Linked DNA regions of Homo sapiens: all the other regions are linked to region 3. The links come from fine-mapping of genetic effects on gene expression. A gene starts in region 3. Each other region holds a variant in brackets. All regions are shown on one strand. Distances are from middle to middle. Region 1 overlaps VGLL3 (vestigial like family member 3). Region 2 overlaps LOC105377196 (a long non-coding RNA gene). Region 3 holds the start of VGLL3 (vestigial like family member 3).

Region 1 (8,406 bases), 53 kb after region 3:
CTCTGGGAATTGCACCATGTACACTTTTACAACCTACAGAAATCGTCATTATTGTTAAAGTATCTCAACTTTTCTATTTCTTTTATTGTCTATTGTGCTTTTTTGTTTAAAAATACTTTTATAGTTTTAAAGTATTGGTCAAAGTAGTATTCTCTTGAAGTTCTAGTCAATTTAATTTGATCCAATAAGTTTTTCTGAATCTCCTTTTTAAGTTCCAAGAAATTCTATTATAAATAAGTGTACTTTTACCAATTCCATTGTATAAGCAAACAGACACCTTTTAGAAAAGGATAAGTAATCATCAATTTGTTTTTTTAAAAAAAAAAACAATTTCTAGACTACTAAATTTGGCATAAGAATAATTCTTTTAAAATGCAACATACTTTAATTAGTTTTTTTGGTATATGCATAAGATGTGAACTTTCCTATTGATATCACTTTATATTAATAGAGATGTACATTTCTTTCTATGCCGTGGCTAGAGCAAAAGTTAATAATGATTATTTACACAATTGATTTAATTTCTTAGGATATGTATAATATTGGATATTATATCTGATTTAAAAATACTATTCCATACATTTTTTTTTTCAGGAGATAAAACATAGGGAAAGGTTTTCATGTGAATTCTTTGTATCACTTTGAAGTACATATATTTAAAGGGAAGATGGATACAATTTGTTTTTATTATATAAATCTAGGTAAGGTGAAATGCTTTTGTCAACAAAAATACAGTGTAGTGAATTTTATATTTGTCACTTGATTAGGTAAACTGAAAACTAACAATAGAAATATTATTTTACTGCATTGAAATACCATGAACTTTCAGACTTGTTAGTTCTACAAGAAGTTGTGCTACCTTAATTTTGTGTTTCCAGAAATAAAAATTAACCTTAGTTATGCTGTCATTTTTAACTAATAAAAAAAGTATAATTCATAAAACTTTTGGCTTTATAAGATAATTATAAAATTATATATTTTTTTCTGTTTTTGTGGGGTTGGGAAAACATTTTCTTATTTCTATTCACTCTTCAAATGCAGGTCTCATAATATGTGTCAATGATATAAGATGATGGAAGACTTTGTAATAAAAACATATGTCATTATCTTCAATTTGTTCAATAAATAATTTAATGTGAATTGAATGTTTGTATTTTAACATAGCATTTGGATTTGGTCTGCATTTCTTGAGAATTTAAAGCTCTTTTTGTTTCCTCCTTATTCAATTAAGCATCTTATAAATATTTTGGAAATTACAACATCTTAGGTGTTATTAATTAAGAAGTTAATTTCTAGGGCCAAGAAGTCTATATGTTACAGCAAGGAATAGATTATAAAATACATGTTTATAATGGAAAAGAAAATGAAATGGGGTATATTAATTACATAACAGCAAGAGTCTTGAGAATTTTATAATACAATGCTTCTAAGGATATTGGTTGACCAAGGTGTATTTTATTGTTTTTACATTTGTTGACAGGGACTCTGCCATAAGTAGTATGAAAAAACAAACAAAAACTTTTCTACGATTCATTAACATTGAAAAGAGAATTCCAAGACCTTGTATTCTGAAGAAAGCTAGAGTTTCTCTAAGTGGGCCTTCAATTTTCTTATTACACGTATCTTTAATGTGAAAGTACTAAAGTCTGAAAATCAGCATTTAAATAATAGACTTTCCAGCATTACAGATGAAATAATTTGGCGCAGGCTTTTTAACTGTCTACCATATTTAGAATGTGGTGTCAAAATGAGATTTTTAGAACTGCTGTAAAATATTACTACATTACTACAACGATAACGGCCTAAAACAACACAAATTTATTATCTTACAGCTCTGTCAGTCAGACATTCAGCAAAGATCTTAGTCTTGGTGGGCTACAGAATGTAGGAGGCATTTCCTGGATGCTTCCAAGAGAGAATCTTGCTGTTCCCTGCTTCTAGAGTCCTTTGCTTAGTTTCCTTCCATCTTCAAATCCAGCAACCTGGTCAAGACCTTCTCACATGACATCACTGACTTCCTCTTCTTCCTCTCCCTTACATATTTAAGGACTCATGTGATTACAATAGCTGCATCTGTGTAATCCAGAATAATCTCTTCATCTCAAGGTTTTTGTTCTGTTTTGTTTTTTTGTTTTGTTTTGTTTTGTTTTGTTTTGATGGAGTCTTGCTCTGTCGTCAGGCTGGAGTGCAGTGGCGCGATCTCGGCTCACTCCAACCTCCACCTCCCGGGTTCAAAGGATTCCCCTGCCTCAGCCTCTCGAGTAGCTGGGACTACAGATGCGTGCTACCACACAAGGCTAATATTTTGTATTTTAGTAGAGACGGGATTTCACCATGTTGGCCAGGATGGTCTCCGTCTCCTGACCTCGTGATCTGCCTGCCTTGGCCTCCCAAAGTGTTGGGATTACAGGCATAAGCCATTGCGCCATGCTCAAGGTTCTTAATTACATCTTTAAAGGCCCTTTTTCCATGTACAGTAACATATTCAATGGTTCTGGGGATTAGGACTTGGAGCCATTATTCTACCTACAACAATTAGTATTGGACTTCCATCATTTTCTATCACTCTTGTAATCGAGAAGGACTATTTCACTGGGAGTAGCAAGTCATAATGTTTGCGTTGGCATTTGTGTGGGGGTTTATCTTCATTCATTAAATAATTGCATGTAAAGAAAATTCCTGTCACTATTTCAAATGTTTCATGTAGTTATTATAGTGCTTCAGAATCCAAAGGGTTATGTGTTACTTATGTAAGATGAGCAGTCTAGGGGGTGGAGAACAGGTCATCTAGTGCAGATTCTTCCTAGCTGAAGTGTGTTTTCTCTGGGGACAACCAAGTAGGATTTAATTGTTTTGCTTCCTTTTTTGGGAACTTAGACCCATCTTGCGATGTCCTAAGTCTCCAAGCATCTTATTTGACCTGCTTATACACATTTGACTAAATAGCTAAATATGACCACATTGACGTGGTAAAGCTTTAACACTTTTGTCCAGATTGAATCACTCCATCTGCTATCAGTTAAGCAGTGGAAAACTGTTATGGAAAAGCAAACATGTTTTGATAGATTTAATGTGTAAAGAAGGTATCCATACTCTGGAATGCTGCTGATCAATAAATGAGCTGCAAGACTTTGTTCGAAACAACACTCAAGCACAACTGTTTTACTTTCCATACCAAGTTTGGCTGTGACTGAATGAAGAACATCAGCATTGATCTTTGCTTTGCACTTGTACAAGAGACTATTTGCAGAGAGCCAAATATAGCAACAGAGGATTTAATATCTTGCCAAAAAATACAAAATCTGTTCCCCTTTAAGCATGACACTCTATCCTTTCTTGTGGATCTTGCTAAAAGGAAAATATAGCTTTAAACTCCCCTATTCCTTCTGTTGAAAGCTTAAGAATCTTTTTCAAATGAGCTATGTATGGTTTTGTGGTATTTTATGTTTCCAAAAGAAAATGGCTACATGAAAAATCTGTCCAGTGTTATCATTTTTCTTACAAAAAATACTTCTAGTTATGGTTGTATTAATTAATTTGATTGTGATAATGATTACACAATGTTTACCTATATCAAATCATCATATCGTATACCTTAAATATATATAACTTTTATGTGTCAATTATAACTCAGTAAGTCTGGGAAAATATCGTTAAGTCAAAGATTAGAGTCAACAGAAATAAAGAAAAATCATACTTTGATAACTTCAGGACTAATCAAGGATCAATGGGTGACATGATATCATGCTATGTGCCATTTTGTGTTAAACAAATTACACCAACAATAAAAAAAATTGGCTTCAATCAACGAGGTTCTTTCTTTGTCTTAGAACATGGGTGCTTTGTTCTGAGTGTTGTCTGATGGGTAGGCAGATTAGTTTAGATTTCTCTATAATGTGGTTAATGACAATAGCTCTTCTGCTCAGTTTATGATGCATATAAAGAATTTTGAAAGTAGTCTTACAAACTTCACCATGAAGTTTCTGCAGTGACAGCTTTACCAGACATCTCCGTGTGGGATTTTAAAACAAACACAAGGCTGTTTGGAAATACTTGGTATATATAAATATGCAAAATATGCTGAACAGCGCTAACAGCTGTAGGGTGAACTCCCTCATCCTTGAGCAGAATATTTTGGTGGCA[G/A]TGTGGTTATTTTTTCCATCTTTGCTTTTAATTCCCGCCCCCCCCCCCGCTCTTTTCTCCACCCACTCACCCATCTACAATCCACTCCAAAAGCACAAATTTAACACCCTTCCCCCTACTTCCACACTGCTTCCAAGAAAATCATTTTAGTAGATTCCCACTGGAAAAGGTGGGTGGTGGCTTGATGGAATGTTTCTGAGTTACACGATGTTGTAAAGCCTGAGCTTCGGGGAACTTGCTTGGACTTGATCTGACATCAGGCTCACACACAGCCCAGACACTCTGCAGGCCAGATTCCATTAAGGCTTATCATTGCAAGAAGAGGAAAAGTCCTGTTGTGAGTGGCCCTCCAGCCATGATGATTCCAAAGATGGCAAAATAATCATTTTAAGTGTGTGCTATCAGGTTCTGTAACATCAAGGCACTCATCCTTTTATGAAAATAAGCATATGCCCTATTTTCATATGCCTTTCCTCAGAGCCCGAAAATGGAGGGAGGACACAAGAAAAGTTAAAATTCAAAGTTTCTTCTTATGGTATCTTGAAGAATTGAAGGTTTGAAGGAAAGAAGGTACCAAATATGAAGAGAGAAGGCCCACATCCTAGGACCATTTCCACTGGTGATTTGTTGATATTATTTAATCTTATATTTCTGTTTATCTGTCCAAGGAAGATCAAGTGAAATAAATCTAAACTGATTTGGGAAAAATAAAGTGCTATATAAATACAAAGAAATAGGAACCAATATTTAATGAAAGTCATTGATCTATCATGAGTATTACATGAATTCACCTCAAGTGATTCTCACAAATAGCAATATGCAGATAGCATTATTTGAGAAGCTGTTAGCAATATAAAAATGGGGGTTGAGTTTCAGCAATGCTACTTAGAAGCTGTATATTTTGGATAATTTTCTTCACCTCTTTAAGTCACAGTGTGGTCATCTGTATGTAAAATGAAGATTTTTTTTTTTTTTTTTTTTTTGAGCGGGAGTCTAGCTCTGTCACCCAGGCTAGAGTGCAGTGGCTGGATCTCGGCTCACCGCAACTTCTGCCTCCTGAATTCAAGGGATTCTCCTGCCTCAGCCTCCCAAGTAGCTGGGATTACAGGTGCCTGCCACCATGCCCAGCTAATTTTTGTATTTCTAGTAGAGACTGGGTTTCACTGGCCAGACTCGTCTCGAACTCCTGACCTTGTGATCTGCCTGCCTTAGCCTCCCAAAGTGCTGGGACTACAAGCGTGAGCCACTGAGCCCAGCCATCAAATGAAGATATTAAAGGAAACTACTTCACAGAGTTGTTACTAGAATTAAGTATTTAATTTACTTATCACTAAGTAAATATTGTTGTTGCTCTTTAATTAATCTAACTTTTCAGTAATTGAGGAAATCATCAGTTAAGTTCATTCTGAAGGGCACTGATATAATTTGGCCCTGAGCACCCACTCAAATTTCATCTTGTAGCTCCTATAATTACCAAGAATTGTGGAAGGGACCCAGTGCTGTTCTTGTGATAGTGAATGAGTCTCACAAGATCTGATAGTTTTACAAAGGGGAGTTTCCTTGCACAAGCTATCTCTTTGTATGCTGCCATCCATGTAATATGTAACTTGCTCTTCCTTGCCTTCCACCATGATTGTGAGGCCTCCCCAATCATGTGGAACTGTAAGTTCATTAAACCTCTTTCTTTTGTAAATTGCCCAGTCTCGGGTATGAAATCAGCAGCACGAAAATGGGCTAATACAGTAAATTGGTACCAGTAGAGTGGGGGCACTGCTGAAAAGATACCCAATAATGTGGAAGCAACTTTGGAAATGGGTAACAGGCAGAGGTTGGAACAGTTTGGAGGGGTCAGAAGAAGACAGGAAAATATGGGAAAGTTTGGAACTTCCTAGAGATTTGTTGACTAGCTTTGATCAAAAGGCTGATAGTGATATGGACAATGAAATCCAAGACGAGATGGTCTCAGATGGAGAGGAGGAACTTGTTGGGTACTGGAGCAAAGGTGACTCTTGTTATGTCTCAGCAAAAAGACGAGGAATTTTGCCCTGCCCTAGAGATCTGTGGAACTTTGACCTTGAGAGAGATGATTTAGAGTATCTGGTGGAATAAATTTCTAAGCAGCAAAGCATTCAAGAGGTTACTTGTGTGCTGTTAAAGGCATTCCGTTTTATTAGGGAAGCAGAGCATAAAAGTTCAGAAAATTTGCAGCCTGACAATGTGATAGAAAAGGAAAATCAATTTTCTGAGGCGAAATTCAAGCCGGCTGCAGAAATTTGCATAAATACTAAGGAGCTGAAAGTTAATCCCCAAGCCAATGGGGAAAATGTCTCCAGGGCATATCAGAGGTCTTCATGGCAGTCCCTCCCATCTCAGGAGGCTTAGGGGGAAAACATGGTTTTGTGGGCTGGGCCCAGGGTCCCTGTGCTGTGTGCAGCCTAAGGTCTTGGTGCATCCCAGCTGCTCTAGTGGTGGCTGAAAGGGCCCAACATAGAGGCTGGGCTGTGGCTTAAACCTTGGCAGCTTCCACATGATGTTGAGCCTGTGAGTGCACAGAAGTCAAGAACTGACGGTTGGGTAACTCCACCAGGGGAAAAAACCACGACCTGCCAAGATGCTTGCTGAAGGCAAAGGGAATACAGAATGGGTAGCAGAACAAGGTAGTCATCAATATCAGCTACGACCATGTGACCAGCTGCAGAAATGGGGACTGTAATTGTCATGAGTATTTCCTTCTCCTTTTGTTAGAAATATGTTTGTGCAAGTATACACTTGCACTAAGAAAATATCTTCATTTTATTCCCTTTTTCCTTTATCATGTGACGTAAGATTTAATGACTTCATGTCAGCATTTATGTGTGTTAACTTAATGTAATAGCATTTGGATTAGGGATTGTTGCATTTCTGGTTGTATGAAGGAGAGTTGTAGTATGTTAGGTGTAATTATGACCTTATTATTGTCTTTATTTGAAGTTATGTATGATTTCAGGAGATGTGTATGGGTTCAATTCGACAAGGGGTGGACTTGTGATGTTAATACTGAGTGTCAACTTGAATGGATTGAAAAATGCAAAGTATTGATCCTGGGTGTGTCTGTGAGGTGTTGCCAAAGGAGATTAACATTTGAGTCTGTGTGTTGGGATATATATATATATATAGATATATAGATATAGATATAGATATAGATATATAGATATATAAAATCTCCTATTAGTTCTTCTCCTGTAGATAACTCTGACTAATATAGGCACCCAGCTGTGAGTGACAGAGCCAGGATCCAAACCCAGATTTAGCCAAACAGGAAACTCAGAACTCCATACCACCCCCAAATTTTTGCTATTGTCACATCTGAATGTATTTGCTGTGAGAAGATTTTATAATCTCATAGCCAACTGGGATAAAAAGAGACAGTAGGAGAAGCTAAAAATGGCCAGGAAGGATAGGATACTTTGGAAGAGTGAGGGAGAGTAATGTGGCTTTCATGAATGAGAGCTATGAGAGACTTTGGAATTGTAGAACATTATTTGCCACTTGGGGATACAGAATAAATTCATCTGACATATACTTCTGATCTCAAGGAATATAATTATTTCTTTACTCAGCTTATCCTCAAATCTTATACCGGATTGGAAGAATTATAGCTTCTTGATGTTGACATCTTATTTTTCATCTGAAACTGTCAACTCCCCAATCTCTTTAGGTGTTCAGCACTTGTTTTGTCTGCTAGAAAAAAAATCAAAATTACATTTTAGTCCTGAAAAATTTTTTTAATGAAGTACCCTCATTTCTCACACTTAGAGTATGTGTTTGGGCAAGACTTTAACAAACATGAATAGAATAAATCATTTCAAAACACTTGTCTTAATCTGCAGCTTCTGTGTCAGAAAGCTGAGAGGCTATAAGATTCTATCATCCTCCTACTCCCCACTTGCCAGTTGTTTGACATGGGAAATGTACCCTTCCTCATTAGTAAAAAGGAGATGGTAATACCTACATTATAGGATAGATATGCAGATTAGATGGGATAATGTGTAAGTGCCTGTCAAGTACTAGACTTCCCAGGAAGCTTAGAATTTTATGCATCAATTAGTACTGGCTCAAATTTACTAGGCATCTATAACCAGGAACTTTACAAAAGTCACCTCTTGGAATCCTCAGAACAACTTTTCAAGGCGAGTTTCCTTATTTTCACATTAGAGATGAGAAACTGAGTTGCAGGGATTTTAAATAATATGACACAGCAGAATCAGGATTAAAAGTCCAGTT
Region 2 (8,406 bases), 80 kb after region 3:
ACTGTTTTTAAAAATCATTTATGTGCTGGTCTACAGGCATGAGGAGTCCAAAATGACTAAGCAAAAGCTAAAGGTTCAGGTTTGAAGAAACCCTTACTGCATTTCCTAGAAGCAAAATTTCCCCTATTGGGGTTTAAGACCTAGAATCTACAGAGTCTAAACGTGCAGCAGTGAGAAACACAAGTTCCACAGTGGGTCATTTGTGGGGACGGGGGGATGGTGAGTGTGGTCGATGCTTCTTTCAACATTTCATTCTCTCACCTGTGTATTCTAGTACTAGGAACAAGGCATCATATAATAGTTATTTCTTAAATATGAACATCACGTCACAAAAGGCAGTATCCTAACCAAATAAGGTGCCATCCCCACAGTGACAACTAGGCTGAACCTTTATGAGGCCATTCTTACATTCTATCAGATTGTCTATGATCTTGTGATTACACACTTTCAACTTGGATATAGCATGACTTTTGATTTACTATCATGACTGGGAGTGGGTGGGAAATCTCAGGTTTGTTCTTGGTATTTCACCCTAATGTCTCTTATTCTACAAATCAGAAATCTAATGTAAGGGTTCTATCAGATCCTAAATTTGATTAAAATTCAGAGTCTTGAGAAATAACTACAGGGTGATTCCATGGAAAAATTAAACTCATTATAAGCTAGATTTAAAGCCGGAAATCTACTTACCGTCTGGTCATAATACACAAGGAATTAGAGTTACTTTAATTTCAGTATGAAATAAGACTCAGTTTTCAACATCTCTTTGAAAGAGCTTGATTATGCGTTTTCCTTAATGTGCGGTTACTCTGGTACAAGACCATAGGTACTTTTGAGGACAGACTGATATAACATTTATGATATATGCTTTTGGTGGCATAAAAGGGTCTTTCCTCAGGAGTATCTATCCTCATTTTGGTCAATAGATCCTATCTGAGGCTATCTCAGATCTGAAAACTGGGCCAGGAGTAGTAAATTTTTACTGCAGAATCTGATAGAACTCTTGGCCTACTACCTTTTGAGTTTTTTCTTGGTTTTATACATGTCAAGCAACATCTTTGATGGCTGCACATTTATTTCACTTCCAGATATACACTACAGTCTTTTAACCATTGCCAGAGTTCTCTGTAGGTTAAGGAACCCTTTTTTTGCCATACAGATATGTCTGTGCCTTCTAGTATTGCTTCTGATGGCTAAGCGCCACCACTTTGTTTTCTGCTATTCCGGAACTCTGTCAGCTTCATTGACACTAGGGGCCTTTGTCTCATGGAACTGTCTCCTTCTGTCAATTCTGTACAGCAGAGGATAGCCATACTGCACTTCTCAAAAACGTTAGTGTTTTCTTCAATAATGCATGCCTCCTTGGATGCAGAAACCCAGGTATTCCTATCCCAGATATATCAGTCTCTTACTTCTTTTGTATCTTGGCCATGATTTTAGCTTAAAAGACGCACTAAGGCTGAACATTGTCTCCTTTGCAGTTTTGTTACCTTTACTATTAAATCTTGGGCTTGAATTTCAGCAAAGTCTACCCAGAGCTATAGAAAATAAAAGTCTTTTAAAAACTTCCATGAAGGTCTTCTGGCCAGTGTCATTCTGTTTCTCCAAGGTTTTCAATGCAAATTAAATGTCAACTAATTTTACAATATTTTAAATTATCATTGCCCCCACAAAGTTCAAGTATCAGAGCTACTGCATAAGCCAATGTTTCCCTCTTTTCTACCTTTTATCACATTTCAAAATAGGTAACAGTATCAGTAATTGTGATGCCAAACTAGTTTGAGAAAAGGACTTATGAAAAGGTAGTTTATTTGAAAGCATCCAAGAAACAGAAGCAGAGGGGTGGGGAAAGTAAACTAAGAAAAGAGGAAAGCTTGTTACCACTGAGAACAACTGGAATTCCATCTGCTATGGGCCTCAGTCCCTCTAAAGAACTATGTTGATGCAGGGCATGGTAGCTCATGCCTGCGATCCTAGCATTTTGGAAGGCTGATGGGGGTGAATTGCCTGAGCTCAGGAGTTCGAGACCAGTCTGGGAAACATGGTGAAGCCTTCTCTCTATTAAGATACAATTAGCCAGGCATGGGGCACATGCCTACAATCCCCACTACTTGGGAGACTGAGGCACAAAAATCACTTGAACCTGGGAGGTGGAGGTTCCAGTGAGCCAAGACTGGGCCACTGCACTCCAGCCTGGGTGACAGAGCAAGACTCTGCCTCCAATAACAAACAAATGAACAAACAAACAAAAAACTGTGTTGAATGTGTTGAATGCAGTTTTAAATAAAGAACGAGAGCCTAAGACCTTTCTACCAGTTCTTGAGATCTGCTAATTGAGTGATTTGTCCGTGGCTCGTCCCTGCATTTCTGGGCTGCTTTGTTGGTGTTATCTGAGTTGCAGTAATAGAAAAGCATAAAAAGCAGTGTTTCCCTTATATCCATGTTCTCATTTATATGCACAATATCAATTTTACAGGTGAAAAAAATTAGGTTTGGACACCGAAGTAATTTACTCAAGGTCACACAAAAAGTAAATGACAATGCAATTAAAGCTTACTAGAAATGAAGACTTTTTAGCCCAAATCCAGACCTAGTGAACCGGAATTTGCAATTTCACAGGAACCTTAGGTGTGACATATGCATATTTAGGTTTGCTATGCACTAGTTTAAAATGTTGTTCTTAAATGTCCATAGCCATAAATCAAACAAGAACATCTTATATATAACGGCAAGTTATCCAAAAGATACATTGCTCTTTCCAGTCAAACCAAAGAGATTCTCCCAGGTATTCTCTTTTTCAAACATTAATTAATTAAGAGTATTTGGCTGTAAGGAACACAATGCAATTTTTTTCAAGATGTTTGTGTGGATTAGGGAGGGACTGGAAGGTGATACAGAAGGTACACTATTGCCATAGGTAAGTAGCATGCCAGGTGGAGCTGAGGAGGCAATGGGCATAACTCAGGAACAACATATTTGAGAGTGTATTATTTTCCTATTGCTGCTGTAAGAAATTAGCACAAATTTGCTTAAAACAGCAGCACACATTTTTCCCATTGTTCTGTTGGTTCAGCTAGTTTCTCTGCTCTGGATTTCAGCTTTTTCACAAGGCTGAACTAAATATATTGGCAAACTGGTTTCTTATCAGGAGGTACCGGGAAGTGTCCACTTTTCTTTTCTTTTCTTTTTTCTTTTTTTTTTTTTTGAGACGGAGTCTCGCTCTATCGCCCAGACTGGAGGACAGTGGCACGATCTCGGCTCACTGAAAGCTCCGCCTCCCGGGTTCACGCCATTGTCCTGCCTCAGCCTCCGTAGTAGCTGGGACTACAGGCGCCCACCACCACGCCCAGCTAATTTTTTTTTTTTTTTTTTTTTTTGTATTTTTAGTAGAGATGGGGTTTCCCCGTGTTAGCCAGGTTGGCCTCGATCCCCTCGTGATCCGCCCGTCTCGGCCTCCCAAAGTGCTGGGATTACAGGCATGAGCCACCGCGCCCGGCCGAAGTGTCAACTTTCAAACTCACTTGGACTCTTCTAAGAATCCAGTTTTTTGCACTTGTGTTAGGGGGCTGTCGTTAACTCCCAGTGGCCGCTGAGGTCCTTGCCTGTGGATTCCTGCTTCTCAAAGCCAGCAAGGGCGTGTCAAATCTGCTCATGCTTGGAATCTCTCTGACTTTTCCTTGGGTCACATATCTCTTGCTTCACCCTCTGCCACACTTTTTTTTTTCCTGAAAGCCAAAAAGATTCTTTGCTTTAAGGGGTGATGTATTTAGATTGAGAGCCCACCTGGATAGTGGGTCCTCTCCCCTCCCGTTTTAGATTCTCAGGCAGTTCTTTATAGCAGTGTGAAAACGGACTAATACACAGTGCTTTGTGCTTGGAAAACGGCATGAAGGAGATGGAGGTAATGTGCGATGACTGAGAGAATTTGTAGAACAGCAAAAACCACTGAAATGCCATTCTTCAATAGAGGCACCAGGTAAGCCAGCAGCACACAACAAAAATAAAAACAATAATTTTGCATTTCCATTTTCTTGTTTTTTCCACTTGTTACAGGCTGTTAAAGTGGCAGTTGCCTGTTATAGTGCATATCACCTTAACTTACCCACCAATAAATCTCAACATAACCCAGCTATTTATGTTTTATAATTCTTGCCTATGGACAGAAACAAAATGTCATTCTCCAAAAGTGTCTTTTCAACAAATACATAGGGAGAAATTAGAACAAAGTATGGACCAAAAGCATTCAAAAATGACTCAAGCTCAGAACACATTTGAACCCACTGAAGAGTACAAGTTGTAGTTAAATTAATCTTACCACTAGGGGAGGGTTGACATTTTTCTTATACATATTCAGATGTCTCCTCTTCTATGTGAACCAGAAACCTTAGGAAGAAATAAGGCAATAGACACAAAGCATGACACATATGGTGGGCATTTGCTTGAACTCTCAGACTGGAAGATTTTTTTTTAGAAAAAAGAAAAAAATTCAGTAAATCCTCAAAAAATTTTTCATTCAGGTCCATACCTTGCTACAGGTTTTATTGCTTCAGTTCTAGTTAAGGATAGTGTTTATTTTTAGATTCATTTAATACCCAGAAACACAAGCAATGCTGAAGGTCACACTACAATCTGAAACTGTCTCAAATGTTTC[T/C]GGTTTGGCTTCACCAAAAATGCATTATGCCAAACACTTTTCGTCCTTAATTTTTAAACCCTTGTATGTTTTTAAACAAAATGCAATCCACATGTTTCTTACACATTTACACTTAACTCATCAAATTCCTCTTGTGTAAAGAGTGACTTGGAGACCAAAAAGGAATTGGAAATTATTTATTTGCCTTTGAAGCTTTTTTTGTTAGGAAAGGAACAGCGTGTTCTTTGGAATAATTCACATTAGACAACCAGGTGTTCAGTAAACCTGAAATATTTAAATAACATAATCTAGAAAAATCTACATTTGTCTGTTCATCTTGCTTCCCCTTGATTACTAATATAATGATAATATTCATCATTTTTCATCATCATCAGTCGTAATGCTATTATGTTATCATTTACTATTATTGTTGTTAGAAACTTAATAGGAACATTGGTGGTATTATAAGCATAAGTGCATTTTGTAACTTCTTCATTTATGAAGTACTTTTACCTCACTCATTCTTAAATACTTCAGTAGTGAAAGCCTTCCATGCTCTGTAGTATATACCTTTTTTCATTTCCTGTTGCGCCATCAGACTGAGAAAAAGAATTTGCCAATTGCTTTACGTCCTCCACAAAGCCTCTTTTTGGTGATATCAATCTCATTTCTACTTTTATGACTTTGAGTGTTCTCTTCATCTCCCTTAACTTTTTTCACCTTCTCTTTTCAGAGCCTTGTTTGTCTCTGTCTTTATAATTTGAATTAAGACTAATATCATCCTAAAATATTTCATTGCTGAGCTGAAAGTTCCTGTCATAACGCTTCCATTTATGTCTTCTTTATAACAGTGGATGCAACATTGTTTTAATTTGCTTATTCTCTGAATTATACATTGTTACAGATCTCCAGGTGTGCCTAAAGAATCTTGGGGATGTGTCTTCTGAAGCTAAAGAGACCCCTAAGCATCCTGCAAAGTAAGTTCTATGTCTTTTTTCTTCACGTCTTCTCATGGCGTTTACTTGCAATTGTTACAACATACAAAATCAGTCAATGTGCCTGCTTGGCACTGTATTTGTTATATGACATGTGCTATTTGTTTTCTCCATGAAAATATTACAATAAAATACTAGATAAAAGTAAATTTTGACCCTGTCTCCCTTTAAAATTAGATTACATGTTTTTAATTTAATATGTGAAGCTTAGGCCTTTATATATTATATATATATATTTATATATATATATTTTAAATTTAACTAAGGTCTTGAAAACATTGCACAGAAAAAGAAAAGTGGTGAATAAGATCTTAATCAAAATTACCATTTATCAAATATTGTTCATTCATAAAACAGATACCAGTGCACAACAATTTGGGACATAGCTTAAGCTTTCTGCTCGATGCTGGCGACAAAGAGGAGAAAGACAACTTCTACTCTCAGACAACTTAGTCTGCTTTAGGAGTTACAAACACAGACAATTTCAACACTGGATGAAAATGATGGGACAAAGGTAAAAGGAGAGAGGAATGCATCTCAGCTGAGTTTCAGAAAAAAAAAAAGTTTTGAAGAGATCTCAATGTTAGGTAAGCTGTGCAAGTTAATCAATATAACGTGCAGGCAAAACAGAAAGCCTTTATTTAATAGACATAGTTATTAGTTAATAACAATAACAATGAATCCTTCTAATGATTGTAGAGGCAAATACTGTTATTATCCTAATTTTACAAGTGAGAAAACGTAAGTTACATATAACATTTAAGTGAGGCCGGGTGTGGTGTCTCATGCCTGTAATCCTAACACTTTGGGAGGCCGAAGTGGGTGGATCACTTGAGGCCAGGGGTTTAAGACCAGCCTGGCTAACATAGTGAAACCCCGCCTCTACTAAAAATACAAAAATTAGTTGGGCATGGTGGTGCACACCTGTAGTCCCAGCTACTCGGGAGGCTGAGATGGGAGAATCTCTGGAACCTGCCCAACCAGGGCCACAGAACAAGAGTCTATCATCTCAGAAAAAAAAAAAAAAAAAAAAAAAGTTAAGTGAATTGCCCAAGGACAACAGCCAACAGCTGACACAGCTAAGAATTAACTATATGCAGTATTCACCCAGAGCCCCAGCTCTGAGCCCCTACATGAAGCTTCCAATATGGAACTTACCCACTCATGGAAAAGCAGCAAACAGTCAAGGAACAGCAAGTGTTTGGCATTGCCTCAGGGCAAGCTACATCTGAGATAATGTCAAGAGATGAATGAAGCTGAAAAAGTAAAGGGGAACAGTGTTATACAGAAAAACTAGGATTTTATCTTAAATGAGTCATTATAATCCTAGGAGTGACAGGGTGTTATTTCAATATTGGGAAGAAAATTCTGACAGGATCTTGGGATGTGGAATATAAAATGGCTAAATTGACGGTCAAAAGACCTGCTGAAAGGTATTTGTGGTAATACAAGTGAACAAGAGAGGAAATACGATTGGAGGGGAGCTGAAACTTACAAGTATTATTCTACAAGTGAATCTTTTAGGACTTGGTAAGCTGCTGGTGCTGGACAAAAGAAAGAAGGTAATGTCTGGAGTGATACCCATGAGTTTCTGATGACAGCAACATTGTCGATAGTAGCCAATCTCTGAAATAAGGAAGAAGAAAAAGAGACTCAGAAATTAGAAAATGCGGCCAGGCGCGGTGGCTCACGCCTGTAATCCCAGCACTTTGGGAAGCCAAGGCGGACGGATCACAAGGTCAAGAGATCAAAACCATCCTGGCCAACATGGTGAAACCCCATCTCTACTAAAAATACAAAAATTAGCCAGGCGTGGTGGTGGGCGCCTGTAGTCTCAGCTACTTGGGAGGCTGAGGCAGGAAAATTGCTTGAACCTGGGAGGCGGAGGCTGCAGTGAGCCGAGATGACGCCACTGCACTCCAGCGTGGTGACAGAGTGAGACTCCATCTCAAAAAAAAAAAAAAAAAAAAAAATTATAAAATGCTCACTCACAATACAATGTCAAGAGAGGAGTTTGAAACTTTGTATTACCTTTTTAAAAATGTGTATTTAATATATACATAAGCTCTGCTGAAAAAACATACAGCCACTAATTGTGAATGGCAAAATTTATTCAAATTTTTAATTTTCATCTGTATTTTCTAAATTTTCTGTAATGACTATGCATTAATTATATTTCTATTGAACTAAAATTAAATTTTATCAGAAGTCTTCTATTTTTATTTTTTCCATCAGCTTTATTGAGTTACAACTGACAAAAATTGAATTTTTTTAAGGTATACAACAAGATTACTGGAAATATTTTAAACAGTGATGTTACTTACTGTTGCCTGGTATAAACTTCCTGAAAAACAAAATACAGCACTTACCAAAAATAAATGCTTTATTAACTTTAGATCAGAAATTCTCTTCTTAGGAAGCTATTTAAGGTTTTACATAATTGCCATCTATTTGTCTATAAATATCTTTATTGTTATGACATTTATAATACTGAAAAATTGGCATCAACAATTGGGTTATTGAAATGAATTATAGGATGAATGTGTTAATATATATTACTCATTAGAATAGTTATTTACAAAAGTATTTAGTTACCAGAAAAAATATTTGTGATATATGGAAATGGCAGGGTATTTATTTTTCTTTCTTGTATGCATGTAGGACAAGGTGATACTGATTTTCTTCTTTGACTTTGTTTTGTACATTTTGAAATCTATGTAATGTACCTACATATTAGTTATAAAATATGTCAATAAAAAAACATTTCATTTGTAACCTGAG
Region 3 (8,406 bases):
ACGGAAGATGCAGCAATGAGGGGTATGGACATGTTGAATCAAGTTCTGGCTTTATTTTATCATTTGGAAAATATATATAGAATGTCTTCGAAGTGTTAGATATGGAGATGAACAAGATATAAATAACCTCTGCCAAAGTCTAGCTAAAAAGACAGATATTAAACTCATAATTGTACAAAAAAATCAACTACAGATAAAAGTTATTTGAAAAAAGTTGGAGGCATTAAACATTTGAACAGGAGGTTTGGCATTGAGAAGTGGCTGTCCTCACAAATTTGCTCTGTGTCCTAATTCAGTCACTTTATATTCTAGGTCCTATTTTTTTTTAACATCATAAGGATTTTCTCAATCTAACATACAGCAGAAAGCCTAAGACAGAGTTTGAAATCATATTCTACATTATAGCTTCACTGATTTTATATGTGCTCAGATCCCACCAAGAATTTGTAAGTTATTCTAATAGTTTTTGTTTCTCCTCCTATTATATACTTTACTTATTCAAAGAATATTTACTAAGCCAGATATCATATGATTGAAATTTAGTGAAATTTAGAGATAAAAGTCACAGTCTCTCCTCTCAAGCAGCCATGGTCATATTGGGGAAACAAGCAAATAAGCAACTTCAAATCAAGTAGTTAATTATTAGTATGATGGGAGCGTATTCTTAAAAGAACAAGAGCTGGTGAAAATAGGAGCATTAAAGCTGATCCTCATCGGATGTTTTGGAAGACAATTACATGAAGAGCAAGAAGGAGTTAACAAGTGAAGAGGGTGAGGGATGTGTTGGTGCAAATGCTCTGCTCATATGTAAAATGACATGCTGGTAGAAAGTACCACGGCTTCTTCGCAGAATGCAGATCTCAATTCAGATAGCTGGTAAACATTTGCAGGAGGTAGTGACATGGGCAGGGATCAGAATCTGAAGGTTAAAGAGTTGTTTCTACAGACTGCGGGATGTGACTGTGAAATTTTTAAAAGAAGAATGAATCATCATTGCACAGTTGGATTTGCAGTGGCTGGGTCATTAAAGAGTAGTATAAACTATGAAGAACAGGAAGAAGTCTCGCCTTGGGACCCGGAAATCACTAAGAGTCTCTTGCAGGAGTCTGAGTGAGAGATGCCGAGCAAACTAACGATTATAGCAACAGAGATAAGGAGAGAGTCAGTAGAAATGGAAAATTTGGGGTCAACTTGACTCCAAGACCAGGTGTGGGGACTGTGAGGAGAAGGAAGGAGTGCCAGAAGATTCCCACATTTCTAGCTGGGACAACTGGTAGTGGGGGAGTTTCAGTAGAGATGAAGATTAAAAAAGAGGATCAAACTGGGGACATGAGACAATCAGTACTATTAGGATTGAGGTCCTTATGTAACACCTATGTGGAGCTACCTAGAAAGAACTGAATAGATAAATCTGGAACACAGGAAGGGATCTGATCAAAGGAGGTCAATTTGGGAAAAGACAATAATAAACGTTTAAAGTAAATTATGAAACATATTATTGCTGGAAATACTCTTGTACTACAAAGAGCACAATTTAAAGTCCAAGAACTGTGCAAACCCTTAATAAATATGTTTTTAATATTCAGTGATAAAATGATTGAATAAAAGCTGTTGCGGCGTAGCAAAAAGTTCCTATCCAATTTTTATAGTGTCAGTGTGTGTGTGTATGCCTGTGTGTTTATACATGTGTATGTATCTGTGTACCTAGACATACACACAGACACTTATGTAAACATTAACGATATATGATAACTGTATATCTGCATTAGTGTGCTAGGGCTGTCATAAATACCACAAACTAGGTGGCCTAAAAAAACAAATTAAGCTGGGCATACCGTGGCTCACGCCTGTAATCCCAGTACTTTGGGAGGCCGAGGTGGGCGGATCACCTGAAGTCAGGAGTTCAAGATCATCCTGGCCAACATGGTGAAACCCTGTCTCTACAAAAGTACAAAAATTAGCCGGGCATGATGGCGGGTGCCTGTAATCCCAGCTACTCGGGAGGCTGGGGCGGAAGAATCACTTGAACCGGGAGGAGGTTGCAGTGAGCCGAGATCGTGACATTGCACTCCAGCCTGGGCAACAGAGCGATACTCCGTCTCAAAAAAAAAAAAAAAAAAAAAAAGTTAATTTTTTCATAGTTCTGGAGGATAGAAGCACAAGATAAGGTGTGGTCAGTGTTGGTTTCAAGGTGAGACCTTTCTTCTTGGCTTGTAGGTAACTCACTATGACTTCAGATGGTCTTTCCTCTTTGACAGAGCAGAGAGACAGGGAGTGGGGTTTGGGGGAGACATAGATATCTCTGGCGTGTTTTCTCTTCTTATAAGGAACCTAGTCCTATTAGATTAGGGCCCAACCTTTTAAATCTCATTTAACCTTATCACCTCCTTATATGTCCTGTCTTCAAATACAGCCATATTGTGGGTTAGGGCTTCAATATATACATTTTTGGGAAGACATAATTCAAACTATAAAAACATTAGTGCATTTGACTTTCAAACTGACTTTTTCTCTGAGAAAAGATAGACTGTAAAAATGAGAGATTGCTGTGAGTCATAAAAGAGGATGCCTACGTATAAGGAGAGATATGTTTGCTGAATCTCAGAGCTAGAGTTTGCTCATTTATAAAATGAGGCCCAGTGCGGTGCCTCATGCCTGTTATCCCAGCACTTTGGGAGACCGAGGCAGAAGGATCACTTGAGGCCAGGAGTTGGAGACCAGCCTAGGTAACATAGCAAGACCCCTTCTCTATAAAAAAAAAAATTAAAAAAATTACCTGGGCGTGGTAATGCACGCCTGTAGTCCCAGCTACTCCAGAGGCTGAGATGGGAGGATCTCTTGAGCGTGGGGGTGGTAGCTGCAGTGAGCTGTGCTCATGTCACTGTACTCTAGCTTGGGCGGCAGAAGGAAACCCTATCTCAAAATAAATAAAATAATGTGAGTATAATTATTTCTACTGATTATGTCAGAATACAAGTATATTCTCACAGACGTTTTTTTCCCCATTTTGGAGAGGGTCAGATCCAATTGCAAAGAGATAAACCTTTATTAGCGAATGGGCTTAATCAACTACCCTTTATTGCTCTGTGAAAACCAGGCTGTAAAAGCCAGAAATGGTGGACGTCTCACAGCAGTGTCATACCATGAAGATGTAAACTTAAAGCAGAGATTGCTTGTGGAAAACTGTGTTGCATTCTTGGCATGTGGGCACTTGCAGAGATGTTAACTTTCACTTATGATTATTTTAATGTAGGAGCTAATCCCCGTGTATTCTGCGCCTGCTCTGTTTTACCCCTTTGTACACTCGGCTTTTGTTTGGTCCCAGCCTCTGAGTTGGTGTTCCCTGTAAAATCTCCTTGGAGTAGGGAAGCCCTCGCCCTGGCGGCCAGGTGACAGAGACAGGGTGGGAACCTGCCGAGCCTTGAGGGCGCGGAGCCTCTGCATACCATTCCCCTCCCACCACCATCCCATGCTGGGAGGCGGAGAGGGCTGCAAACTTCGCTCCAATCCGCAGCCAGCCTTCCCCGGGGTCCCCCTGCAGGGTGACCCGCCCGCTGCAAAGCGAGTTGGAGAAACTTTGCAAAGTTCCGCGTCAGAGCCTGGGGAGGCAAAGTGCTCCCCCTTCTCCCCGGCGTTCCCCCTCCCTCTGCCCCCGCCTCCCTGTCCTCGCACAGCCGGGAGCACCCGTGATAGGACGAGCCCCGGGCGTGCATTGTGTATATGCAAACCGGAGCTGGGCTCCCCACGGCTGCCCGACCCGGGCCTGGGCTGTGGCTGTGACTGGCGCTGCCGTGGGCGCCGCAGCCCTCGCGGGAGCCGGACGCGGTAATGCCCCAGCGGCGCAGCGGGCGGCTGCGTCCCTGAGCCGCTATATAAGCGCGGCAGGGAACATCCGGAGGGGCTGAAGATGAAGGTGCCCGCGCATGGGCCCCCGCTGATTGCCAGTCCCTCCCGACCCCGCGCCCCGCGCGGAGCCCGAGGCCGCCGAGGACCCGCCTTCGCCGCAGTAGCAGCTGGAGCAGCGACAGAGGCGGCAGCTGCGGCGGCGGCGGCGCCCGCGCCCCTCGCGCCAGCGCGTAGAGCGGCGGCGGCAGCTCGGGGGCCGCCACTGCCCCGGCTGCCATGAGTTGTGCGGAGGTGATGTATCACCCCCAGCCTTATGGAGCGTCCCAGTATCTGCCCAACCCCATGGCAGCGACAACCTGCCCCACAGCCTACTATCAGCCGGCGCCCCAACCTGGCCAGCAGGTGAGTCACCGGACGGGCAGCCTGCTGGGGGCGGGGGCGAAGGGCATCGAGAGTATCGGTCTGGGGCTCGGCGACGTCCCGCCGGCACGCGTGGCGCAGAGGATGCTCTGGGATCTGCGGGAGCGTCCTTGAGCAGAAAGCCATCCCGAGAGAGCCGGGAAGGGAGAGCAGCAGGGTGGACGGGTGGGTGAGGCATGACCTAGCTGGGGGCTTCATTGAGCTGTGGTCACCGGAGCTCAGAGGCTGCTCCTCCTAGGCACCCTAGCTCTTAGGACTCAGTTCTCTGAAGCTCACCAAGGGCATCTATCTTAGGACCATGTGAGTAAACTTCCTTTCAACCAACTATTTTGTTTATTTGGAAAGATGGAATGTTTCAGGGTTTTATTGATGAGGAAGATGAAGTGCGCTGACAGAGGTAGGGGAAGCTACCTGGAGAGTGAGTTCACGAAATGATCTGGGACTTTCATGGGGGAACACTGGTCTAGCATAATGTCTATCGGGTGTTACTAGAACTTCTCCACAGAATCTTTCTCCCGGTGACTGTGACTTAGAGGACAGGGATGGATTCCAAGGTTCTTCATTCATTTTTTAATTCCAGCAAAGCACAGAGTTTGTACGTGTTCAGTCTGTTGACAGTGGGTCCCTCGGCCAAAAGGTTACCTTGAATCTCTGGATGCTGAGTCTCCACTCTTCCAAGAGTAACTGAAGATGTCCATAATAAGGGGTCGTGAACTGAGGAGATGATATAGTTACTTTAGAAGGAACAGTAGAGTTCTGGGGAATTTGGCACGAGGCGCCCTTGGACATTACTCTCTGGATACAACGGAGAGTGTGCCAAGGCTTAGTTAGTGCTACATTAAAATAAAAAATGTATGTGGCAAGGGCTGTACCAAAATAGAGTCCACCTCAGACTATGGGAATTAGGGTGGGCGGATTTGGAGAAACTTAAAAAAAATAACTAGATTTGGTTAGGAAATTACCATCCATAGAATATATTGATTTATTTCTTTTTACTTTCTTAGGTACCACATGTTTTATTGCAAACCTTCTTAGGTTTGGGCTGTTAATTAATCTGACATTTTACTTTCTGTATTTCCTCTACTTCTGTCTCTTTGCTAGAATTACAGTGCTACTCTTTAGAAAGAAATCTAACTTTCCGTTTAGAATTTAGGAACTATGAAATTCAGCTAATTCTGGAAGGGTACATGCCCCAGATTCATCTGCTAAATAGTACCAGCTTAACCAGAACCAATTAGGGCAAAAGAGGAAGGAGCCCTACTTTCTTGCTATCCTCTTAAAAAAAATATTCAGCAGCACCAGCATTTCAAAGCATCTCTGATATTACAGAGGTCTTCAATTATCATTTGGAATGTGGATGAGCAACAAACTAAAACTTCTCTACATGTTCAGAAAGATACTTTCCTCCTTTATAAAATAACAAACTAGTAGAAGTTGTTTCAAATATGGCTTTATTTTTTAGGGTTGTGAAATTAATGAATCTGTGGTGTGGAGTTAATACTGTAACACTTTTTTTTGAGCTAGAAAATAACATTCGGTATCAGAGAAAATGGCAAATTGCCAATCATAAAAGTTTTCAATAAGAAATGACTCCAGTACTTTATATAATGTTTGCAATAGCCCTGAGACTCGGTCCCCAAATTCATTTCTTTTGCTAAAACCGTCAACATACTGAAGACAACAATTTTAAAAAGTAAAAAATAAAATAAAATAAAAATCAGGAAAACTCTGACCATTGAGCTTCTTAAAAAGAAAACAATTTATCTACATTGATTGGTTACATAATGATCAACTTCTATATTTTGGGCTTTTGTAGACATTGCTTAACTAGATGTTAGGCTGAGTGAGCCATAGGGAGGTGCTTGGAAATTTTCATGTTGCTTTTTCTTCTTTTTCTTCTCCTTCTTCTTCTTCTTTTTTTTTTTTTTTTTTTTTTTTTTTTTTTTTTTTTTTTTTTTTGGTCAAGTAAAGAAACTGTTTGACCATAACTGGCTAACGAAATAAAAAAAAAAAGACTTGACAGTGTAACTACTGTTCTTTTAGTGTCAGAAGTTTATTTTGATGACCTACATTTTCTATTGGAAAAGAGAGTAAATCAGGAAATTCTTATCAGGCTGACAGCATTTTTAGACTATGCAATGCGTGGGTGAAGTGGGACTAATATTGACTTGGCCCTAATGCAGTCATCCGAGAATACATATTTTGGTTGTTTTTGCATTCCATAAGGTTTTATCATTATTATCCATGAAGATTGTTTTCTCCGTACATGGGAAGTGACCCCTAATAGCATCTTGCCTGGGAGACAAAAGTAAGGGCTACAACTCCTACTGAATTTGAAAAATTGATTTTTGGAGAAGGAAAAAATGGAAAAGGAGCGAAGAAAAGTAACAGCAATCAAGAAATTTTAATAGCCATTTAAAAAATGCTAGAAAAGACAGCATTAAAGTTTTATATTACTTCTGTATTCAATTGTAGTAGTGTATCTGTCAACTAATTTCCCCCTCAAACTGTATGGCTCTGAAGTCCTTATTAATTACTGTATCAAAATGATTCCTTATGATGGATTTTAAACACAGGTATATTTTTCCTCTTAACAAATGATCATATAACATTGAGAATTATTTTGGAAATAACAGAACTTCATTATCCAGGCATGTGTACTCTCACCTGTTTTCCGATAAGCACAAATGTGCACCTGAAATTTAAGTTTAGGTTTTTGTTGAACATATTGCATGTTGTAGGTGGGTAATAAGTGAATGTCATTTTAAAAACCTAGTTAACTGTATATATATATTAGCTTGCACTGCAGTGTGTTACTTAGGTATACAGTGGGCTAAAAAGTCAAAGTAAGCTAAAATATGTGCAAAGTATACATTTTATTGTCCCTGACATTAATTACTAGAAATTGCATGGCTGGGTATAAATCCTACAGTGGGGTTTATAGAGCCAAAATTACTGAGGGATGCTGGGTGACCTGTTTCGCATGCCCACCATCTCTTTCTGGCTTTAATATGTCAGTCTCTAACAACTCCTCAGGAGAACCCTTGACTCAGTCTCTCAGCACATGCTGTCAAAGGTTTCAGAATTATGCAGTTTATAGATGAGACAGAGAACAGTCACTGGTTTTCTAATTGTGCATGGGGATTTTTAACAATCACACTTTGGGCTTCATATAAAATGGAGTATATTTACTCTGTCCTCTTCCAGGGTAACAGCTGGATGAATCTGCATGCATGCTTTCACTTGAAAAAATTAAGTGCCCTTGGAGGGAGAACTTCAGTTATAAGTTTTGTAAGGTGTTTTTTCAAACTCTCTCTGGACTCTGCTACGTTGGTTGAGTCATAAAATTGTTCTGCAATTCGGTTTGTCAGAGAAAAAAGCCCTGGAAAAACATAACTTCAACTCTTCTTTTTACAAGTGAGAAAATGGATTTTTATAGGGCTGAAATGCCTAGCTAAAGATTTCAAAGCTGGTGACAAAATTAGGATCACCAGATCCCCCTTTCTCCGGTGTAGCATCTTTGTACAATGACATGAAATTTCCTAAAGCTTTTTAAATTTTTTTAATGTTTTGCTATTGCACAATAGGCTTATTTTTGTCTTTAGGTCCCCAATCAATTTTTTTTCTAATGAAGATTAATATGCAATAGATTCTTTGGCGTTGGAGTGCGAGATTCTTTCCAAGTCCTTGGTAGTGTACTTTTTTAAGTTTAGGCATTCCAAAGGCCGTTAGCAAGCATTTGGATTATGCTAATGACTTATGCTATCCATGTTGCACCCTTGTTGATGAAACAGTATATCCAGTTAGCAAATGAATATTTATTTATCTAAAATAAAATACAGGAAGTGGTATTAGCAGTTAAGTGTCTCATCTATTATTGCTATTCCAACATAAGTTTAGATTCATTAAGAGAAAAGAATACAGTTATAACCAAAGTAGTTTCAATTCACAGACAACTTATTTGAGGCAGAGGATCTATTTTTCTTGCAACTGTAAGTAAGGACTTAAGTAGATTTATAAAAATTTATACAGGACTTCTTTGAGAAAGAACAGCCCCTATAACTTCACACTACACAAATTAACTTCACTGTAGAGACTTCGAGACTTAAAGTGCCCCACAGCTTCATGCTCCCTATAACT

Evidence for each region. PIP is the estimated chance that this variant, and not a neighbour inherited with it, causes the effect.
Region 1: its variant is fine-mapped to the expression of VGLL3 in lung (TOPMed, PIP above 0.99).
Region 2: its variant is fine-mapped to the expression of VGLL3 in lung (TOPMed, PIP above 0.99).

What each region holds. Positions count from the first base shown.
Region 1 is chr3:86,933,371-86,941,776 of GRCh38, reverse strand. VGLL3 (vestigial like family member 3) reads left to right here. Exons shown (of 4, transcript NM_016206.4): 4 at 1-3,804. Among named protein-coding and RNA genes, the nearest start is that of VGLL3, 54 kb to the left of the region's middle. The variant G/A (reference allele first, on the strand shown) is at 4,144.
Region 2 is chr3:86,906,187-86,914,592 of GRCh38, reverse strand. LOC105377196 (a long non-coding RNA gene) reads left to right here. Exons shown (of 6, transcript XR_001740802.2): 3 at 5,535-5,607; 4 at 5,983-6,212. Among named protein-coding and RNA genes, the nearest start is that of VGLL3, 81 kb to the left of the region's middle. The variant T/C (reference allele first, on the strand shown) is at 4,652.
Region 3 is chr3:86,986,460-86,994,865 of GRCh38, reverse strand. VGLL3 (vestigial like family member 3) reads left to right here and starts at 3,717. Exons shown (of 4, transcript NM_016206.4): 1 at 3,717-4,248. The coding sequence starts at 4,123.